Homo sapiens: one gene and its partner. The protein of the gene in region 2 interacts with the protein of the main gene of each other region in a pairwise test. Each region holds a gene or a part of one and is shown on either strand. Other genes may lie near its edges.

Region 1 (3,824 bases), on a different chromosome or scaffold from region 2:
AGGAGCTCTGACCACAGATTGAGAAATCCAGGTACAATGTCTGACGTGAGGAGCAGGGCTGAGCTTAGGAAATCTTTTTTACATCACTGCAACTTCTCAGTTTTGTTCCATACTCTCCCATCATCTTTCTTTCTCTGCTCAAGCCATCTTCAAGGTAGGGTGAGATGTCACACAGGCCGGTGAGGTTGTGTGCTCCATCTCTTTCCACCCGGTGCGGTATGCTTTGGTGGTGTCAAGCTGCTTGTAGCTCATATTAATACATGAATTTATAGTACATACTAATTTACAGGTTTCAACATGGGGATTCTGAGGAAACTTGGGAATCCCCAAGACCCTTTTAAGGGATCAGCAAAGTCTTACTTTTTCTAATGACATATTTGTGTGAAACTGAATTTTTCTTTATGTTTAAACCAATAGATTGAATACAGAAGCAAATTGAGAAGCTAGCTGTCTTTTTTTTCAGCCAGACATTAAAAATATTTGCAAAAGTGTAAAGCAATGATACTCCTGTCACTAATTTTGTTTTTGAAAATATGGTTCTTTTTCTTTTTCTTTTTTGAGACAGAGTTTCACTCCCATCGCCCAGGCTGGAATGCAGTGGTGCAGTCTTGGCTCACTGCAACCTCCACCCCTGGGACGTAAGAGATTCTCCTGCCTTAGCCTCCTGAGTTCCTAAGACTACAGGTGCATGCCAATGTACCTGGCTAATTTTTTGTATTTTTAGTAGAGACGAGGTTTTGCCATGTTGCCCAGGCTGGTCTTGAACTCCTGAGCTCAAGTGATCCACCTGCCTTGGCCTCCCAAAGTCTGGGATTACAGGTGTGAACCACCGCACCCAGACTGTTTTTCTTAAAACATGTAATTCAGGTTAGCATGAAAAATTTTACTCTCATTATTTTAAAATTAATAATTCTTTCTCAATTTCTATCTTAATTTCTTCCTTCCTTCCTTCCTTCCTTCCTTCCTTCCTTCCTTCCTTCCTTCCTTCCTTCCTTCCTCTCTCTCTCTCTCCCTCTCTCTCTCTCTCTCTCTCTCTCTCTCTCTCTCCTGTCTCTCAGAGTCCTGCTCTGTCATCTAGGCTGGAGTGTAGTGGCACTATCATCGCTCACTGCAACCTCCACTTCCTGGGCTCAAGCGATTCTCGTGGCCCAGCCTCCGGAGTAGCTGAGATTACAGGTGTGCACCACCACGCCTGGCTAATTTTTGTATTTTTAGTAGAGACAGGGTTTTGCCATGTTGGCCGGGCTGGTCTCTAATTCCTGACCTCAGGTGATCTTCCTGCATCAGCCTTCCAAAGTGCTGGGATTTACAGACATGATGCACGGCACCTGGCCAACTGTTTTAATTTCTAGTATGGTAAATATAAACATTTCTTATATATTTTCAATAATTTAAAAAGTATAAAGGAATCCTGAAATAAAAAAATTGGAGAACCATTTTACTAGACTGTGTCATGCCTTTAGATTTTTTTTTTTTTTTTTTGAGATGGAGTCTCGCTCTTTTGTCCAGGCTGGAGTGCAATGAGGTGATCTCAGCTTACTGCAACCTCTGCCTTCTTGGTTCAAGCGATTCTCCTGCCTCAGCCTCCTGAGTAGCTGGGATTACAGGCATGTGCAACCACACCCAGCTAATATTTTTGTATTTTTAGTAGAGACGGGGTTTCGCCATGTTGGCCAGGCTGGTCTTGAACTCCTGACCTCAGGTGATCCACCCGCCTCGGGCTCCCAAAGTGCTGGGATTACAGGTGTGAGCCACCACCCCCGGCCTTGCCTTTAGACCTTTGCCTGTACCCCAACTAAAATACTATTCCTTCTTCCATATTTTCCTGGCAAATGCTTATATAAGTATTCCCCTGGCTCTTTTCTTCTCTGGAGTCACTCATTCCTTCTTGTATTTTCCTATATCTTGAAAACATTTCTTTTATTTTTCATGTTTTTGTATTGTTTAGTCATGTGTCTTTCTTACAAAACCGTGAGCCTTCTCAAAGCAAGAACCCTATCTAAATAATCTCATTATTTCTAGTGCTAGTCCAGTGCTCTGTATAGAGGACATAACCTATGAATATTGTACATTGAATGGACTAAAATCAAAGGCCTGAATTTTAGTTGCAGATCTGCCACTACCTAGCTGTGTGACTTTTCGCAAGTTACTTGACCCCTATGAAGCTCAGTTTCCTCATGGGCAAAATGAGAGTATTAGGCCAGATTGTCTCTAAGGTCCCTTCCCACTCTGATATTTTTATTCGGACTGAGTGGGTACATGGCATGCTGGTTTCGATAAATATCAGTGGGAATCCCATATGAAAATATTTGACATTTAGCATATTTAGTAATGTAAACTATATTGGGATCTTCCTTCATTCCTTCCAACAAATTAAAAAATGGGAATTCTTGCCACTTTTGTTTCTGGGTCTTCCTTGGATATGTAGCACCATGACCCTCAGGTGATGACCCATATATTTATTGTGACCTGTTTGACTTCTAGGTCTGAGCACCATCCCCCTCATCTCCTGCCTCTTCCCAGCTTACTTTTCAGTAGTGAGAAAACCCCTTCTCTTACTGTGATGATGTGGAAAGAAAAATGAGATGGGAACACATAGAAGCCCAAGCTTTGTTCAAAAAGAATTTCATTCCCTTACCTTCCAAGAGCTGTCAGAGGCCTGAATCAGAGTGGACAGTAGGTCTTGGAGAATCACCATTTTCTGTTTTAGGACCAGCTCCCTTTGTAGGGCCTCCTGGGGGTGCGGGCACAAAGTGCAAGAGGGTAAGATTAACCTGGAGGATCGGGGGTAAGTGGATGGAGGAACTGAGGGGAGGGGTCACATGCCACTTACTTTGAGGTAATCAGAAAGCTGGATGATTTCCTGGAGAGAAAGAACAAGGGTATTCAAAATGTCTGTAAGTCCCCTGAAACCCTGGGATATAGAACCAGAGCCTGGGCTGGCTTGTGTAGAGCAAACCTCTTCTGCTTTGGCTCTGACAGGGTCCCTTTAGTCCCCATGTCTATGCTCAGTACCCCCTTGCCATCCAGGAAGAAGATGCCCCTCCATCCCAGCCAAGTTTATCATGGAATTCCAGAATGTCAGAGCTTAATACTTTCTGATTTGACCCCTTCAAAGTGAATATGTGCTTACCTTATCCAGAACTGCAACTCCGTAACTGGAAAGAGAAGAAATTAAAAATAATGATAATGGACCAAAGAATCAAGTCAGGAGGCAGTGGGTTGATTCCTTCTGAAGAGCCAGTAGGGTGGGGAAGGGCTTCCTCTTTCTTAATTAAGGCGGACATGGAAATTCATTGTGTTCTCTCTAGAGAGGAATGGATGGGATGTGAGAGGGTTAGGGTCAGGAACTCACTTGGTTTGCTGACTGGCATCGTTCTTAATTGTTGGTCCTTCTGCCTTTGTCTGAGTACCTGAGAGATGGAGGATAAGTTGATTTAGAACTTACAGGGAGGAAGTGAGGGAAGTGGGGAGGGACAGGGACTCTCCATTGCCAGTGAGCTGGGACAGTTGTCTCAGGATTCTCTGCAGGCCCTGTGGAGTGAGGGAGGCTCTGCTCTTACCACGGTGGTGTTTGGGTGGCTTCTTGATGGGAGTGTCCTGTGGAGGAAGGCCCCCAGCCTGTGAGGAGAGGTGGTCAGACAGATCCCTGCAGATGCCTGAGGGAGGAGGATGCTGGGCTGGAAAGACTTCAGAGCTGGTGCCTGTCACCTGGAAGGCAAGTGGGGAATGCTGAAAACCACTGCCTGGAGCCTCTTGAAAGACTCTCCTGATGATTTCGGAAGGAAGAACTAACCATCATGTTTGTTATGGACTGAGTGTTT
Region 2 (3,824 bases):
ATTTAATATTTTTAAAATCTAAGAGCCTATTTATATGTTTTTTGGTGGAAAGTTGGACGTTAATAATTTATTTCCAATTTCTAGATTGGTCTCTGTCATTTGGGACAAAGAGTAAGAGAGACATAAACCACTATAGAAATAATGTCTTTATGACAGGAGACTAGGTCTAGATAGCAGGGTCTTCAGAATCCCAAAAGGTGAACACATGTAGGTGGGTCACAGGTAAGTTGGGCTGGGGAAGCCTGGCCTTTTAAGGTGTGGATTTCCCCAGAAACAATACTGATCCACTGCCCATTAAAACATGTATATCTCAATTAAACAATGGGGGAGGAATAGGGAGAGAGAAAGACAGAACTTTTTAGCCAATATTTGGCATTAAACTCTTTCATCCAGGTTTCCAGGAGATTCTTACAGGGATTAATAGAGGACTTCTAGGGTACAAAATATTTGTTTTTATTAGTGCTTCTGCAAAAGCAGCTGCGTGAAGTTAACCATACTCTTTGGGCTATTAATAATTATGAACTGTTCTTGGTAGATGTCAGATAACTTGAACGTGACAAAGAAGAAAGAGCACAGATCATCTGAAGCATGATTAGGTGGGTGTTGATAAATGATTATTAGCAAATAAATTCTATCTTTTCAGTCACTGAAAAGTAAGATTTCATTGGTATGAAATAATCACTCTGGTACTATAAATGTCACATGAATAAAGTGAATTTTAAAATAGAAATTATTAAAGAGATATGCCCTGTTTACCCTTAAAAATAAACAGAATTTCAAACCTGAATAAGTTAAATCTGTTAGTAAAAGCAGAGTCGATCAACTATTCTTCACAATGGTGAGTGCTTGATAGCTAAACTTTAGAATGATACCAAATCTGTTTTCAAAACTGTAATACAATATAGAAATCTGCTTGCAAACTATTTGTCTAGCATTTCTGAATAATAATATATTTAACATATTATTGCATTTTTCTCCCCCTAACAGGTAAAATGCTTTGCCAGGTGCTTTATGTGAACAGCTGAAAGGAGAGTCAAATTAAAAACTCAGTTTAACACTGCCTGGTCATTATACACAAAGGGGTTAATATGGCAGATATGATAAAGATTACTATTTTGACTACTTAATGTGTTTTAACAAGATTTCTCAGGGGAGAACTTGGTCTAAGTTTCCCGTTTTCTTCTATTCAGTCCCAGCTATCAAGCTTTTAAATTATCCATTGTAGCATGCCCTACTTACTCAACAGGGACAAGCTAAACTTGTATTCGCTCAGGCCTGCCTAGCGAATTAGAACCACCTCAGAAATAAAGGCGCCTATTGGGGAGAAATTTGAAACAGACCTCAGGCTCACAGATTCAGCTGAGCTTGCAGCAACCTGAACAAACCTTAGTTTTAGAAAACAGTATATGAATTGCAAAACTATACTTCAACAAATGTTCTCTGTGCTCCTTCAGCAGAACAAAAGGGCAGGACGAGATGATTCTTGCCCTCGTCTTCTGTATCTCTTGTGTGCAGTTGATTACTTATAAACAGCTAGAAGGTGAAGATGATGCATTGCGTCATACAAAGACTTTAGCCAGTGCGTCAGCTCCAGCACTGGCTATATAGCATTTGGATGGGTGGAAAGCTACATCATGAATCGATTCTTCAAACTTTTTTCGATGAGCTGTGAATTCTTGGATACACGTCTTACTTTCTAGATTCCATAAACGTATTGAACAGTCATGACCTATATCCAAAAAAAAAATTAAAAGGAAAAATTACATTAACATGAAAATGGTAAGGACAAATAAATAATCCATAGTTGAGGTACTTACTGCCAGACATCAAGTAAAGGCCATTGGGATCAACTGCTAAACTTGTAACAGCTTCTAGGTGGGCTACCATCGAGTGGATCAGTTTGCCTTTGGAAAAAGAGATTGTTACTCCTTATTAATGCCTTTCCTCATCTTCAATATTTGCCAGCTACCATGTCCTGCTGGTTTCTCCAGTCATCCCTCTCTGTGTGCTTACTGTATTAATAGCTTTTTCCATCACCTAAAACAACATGTCTCCCTCTTGCCTCTAGTCATGGCAATGATATGGAAAACCAAAAAAAGCTCAAATTTTAGATTACACTTTTGTCTTTTAAGCCACGATATGGAAGTCAGTAATTTCTACACGCAACCCTTAAGCCACGTTTGTTAATTAGAACTTAGACATTATTAATCACCTACTTTGCATTCTTTAGCTACTGGCAAATTATGAGTTGTGGAAACACAGAATTCAAATTCACAGAGAGAAAACAATGAGGCAAGGAAAAAGGGACAGAAAGAAAACATGGCCACAATTTTGGTGGATACAACATACAGAAAAAAATTTTAAATATTAAATGATTCATCACCAGCAGCTAAACAAAGTCAGCAGAAGTCAACATATTAACAAGGCAGATACTTAGGTAAATATGGCAGCTAATATAGGGTGCTTTCCTCCCAGCACAGTGCTTCCTAAATTTCCTTTATACTGGTGAAATGTAATAAAATAAAACTTGGGCAAATCTCCATGCACAATTCAAATCAATGAGGACCAACCAGTCAGTTTTATAATACAGAAAAGATTAGTCTATGGAAAAACGAATACAATGACCTGGAGGTTTTCCATCCGCAACACTAAAAAAGGCTATTTGGTAATGGAATAATTGAATATTGAATAATGCTATTCAATAACTGAACAACTTTAAACAAAATATAATGACCATATGCCTCTATTTCCAATGTTTCTACTTTTCCCCAATATATAATACTACAATAGATCATAGCAACAGATCATTTTTATTTGTATTTGAGTGAACTTTTCCTGGTGTCCCTAGTGATAACCTTGGCTCTAAAGCCTACATATAGCATCTGCTCACTATTAAATAAACCAAAATGATTCTGTATTGTATAATAAAGACTAGTCTTAGCAGATTTGGATAGAGTGAAGAGAAACTGAGACGGGAGAGTATTTGGGGTTCAGTGCCTATTCCCTGACTACGAAACCACCAAGAGACACCAAAATTAGCCTACTTGTGGTAGGGATTTTTTTTTTTTGCTTTAATAAAAATCAATTCTTAATAAATTCTTACCTGTATTGTTATCATAGAATTTGATGTGCCTGTCTTCATGAGCAGTGATGCTGATCGGAAGAGTAGGATGACTGATGACTCTATTTATTTGGCAGGAAGAGTTGGCTGCTAAAAAGAAAAAATTAAAAAGCAACACAACTTAGTCAAAGATATTTTTCACACAAAGGAGAACTGAATTATCTATCTAAGAGACTGAAAAAGTAGGCCGGCCGCGGTGGCTCACGCCTGTAATCCAAGCACGTTGGGAGGCCAAGGTGGGTGGATCACGAGGTCAGGAGATCGAGACCATCCTGGCCAACATGGTGAAACCCTGTCTCTATTAAAAATACAAAAATTAGCCGAGTGTGGTGGTGCGTGCCTGTAGTTCCAGCTACTCAGGAGGCTGAGGCAGGAAAATCACTTGAACCCGGGAGATGGAAGTTGCAGTGAGCCGAGATCGTGCCACTGCATTCCAGCCTAGGTGTCAGAGCGAGACTCCATTTCAAAAAAAGAAAAGAAAAAAGAAAAAGAAAAAGTAATAATGTGACTTTCATTATTTGTCTTTAGTTCATTTATTCTGTGACTGTTTTCAAAATTTCAATGTTAGGAAAGAGAATTGCCTGATAAATCTGGAAATATTTATAAATTACAATTTCCTGCTATATGTGGGTGCCATCTATGGCTTAGTCTAGAGCCACTAACGCTGTTCATTCTACAATGTTCTGTGAGATTTTGCTACTTT

What was found.
Region 1: the proteins of STRN (region 2) and TRAF3IP3 interact in binary tests that used the Homo sapiens proteins (3 or more experiments, as listed by UniProt).

Annotation. Positions count from the first base shown.
Region 1 is NC_000001.11:209,762,402-209,766,225, reverse strand, and holds part of TRAF3IP3 (TRAF3-interacting JNK-activating modulator), read right to left. Parts: intron 3,712-3,824; coding exon 3,564-3,711; intron 3,414-3,563; coding exon 3,356-3,413; intron 3,159-3,355; coding exon 3,134-3,158; intron 2,864-3,133; coding exon 2,834-2,863; intron 2,735-2,833; coding exon 2,639-2,734; intron 1-2,638. UniProt on the Homo sapiens protein: Adapter protein that plays essential roles in both innate and adaptive immunity. Plays a crucial role in the regulation of thymocyte development.
Region 2 is NC_000002.12:36,847,897-36,851,720, forward strand, and holds part of STRN (striatin), read right to left. Parts: intron 3,212-3,824; coding exon 3,104-3,211; intron 1,905-3,103; coding exon 1,818-1,904; intron 1,730-1,817; coding exon 1,560-1,729; 3' UTR 1-1,559. UniProt on the Homo sapiens protein: Calmodulin-binding scaffolding protein which is the center of the striatin-interacting phosphatase and kinase (STRIPAK) complexes.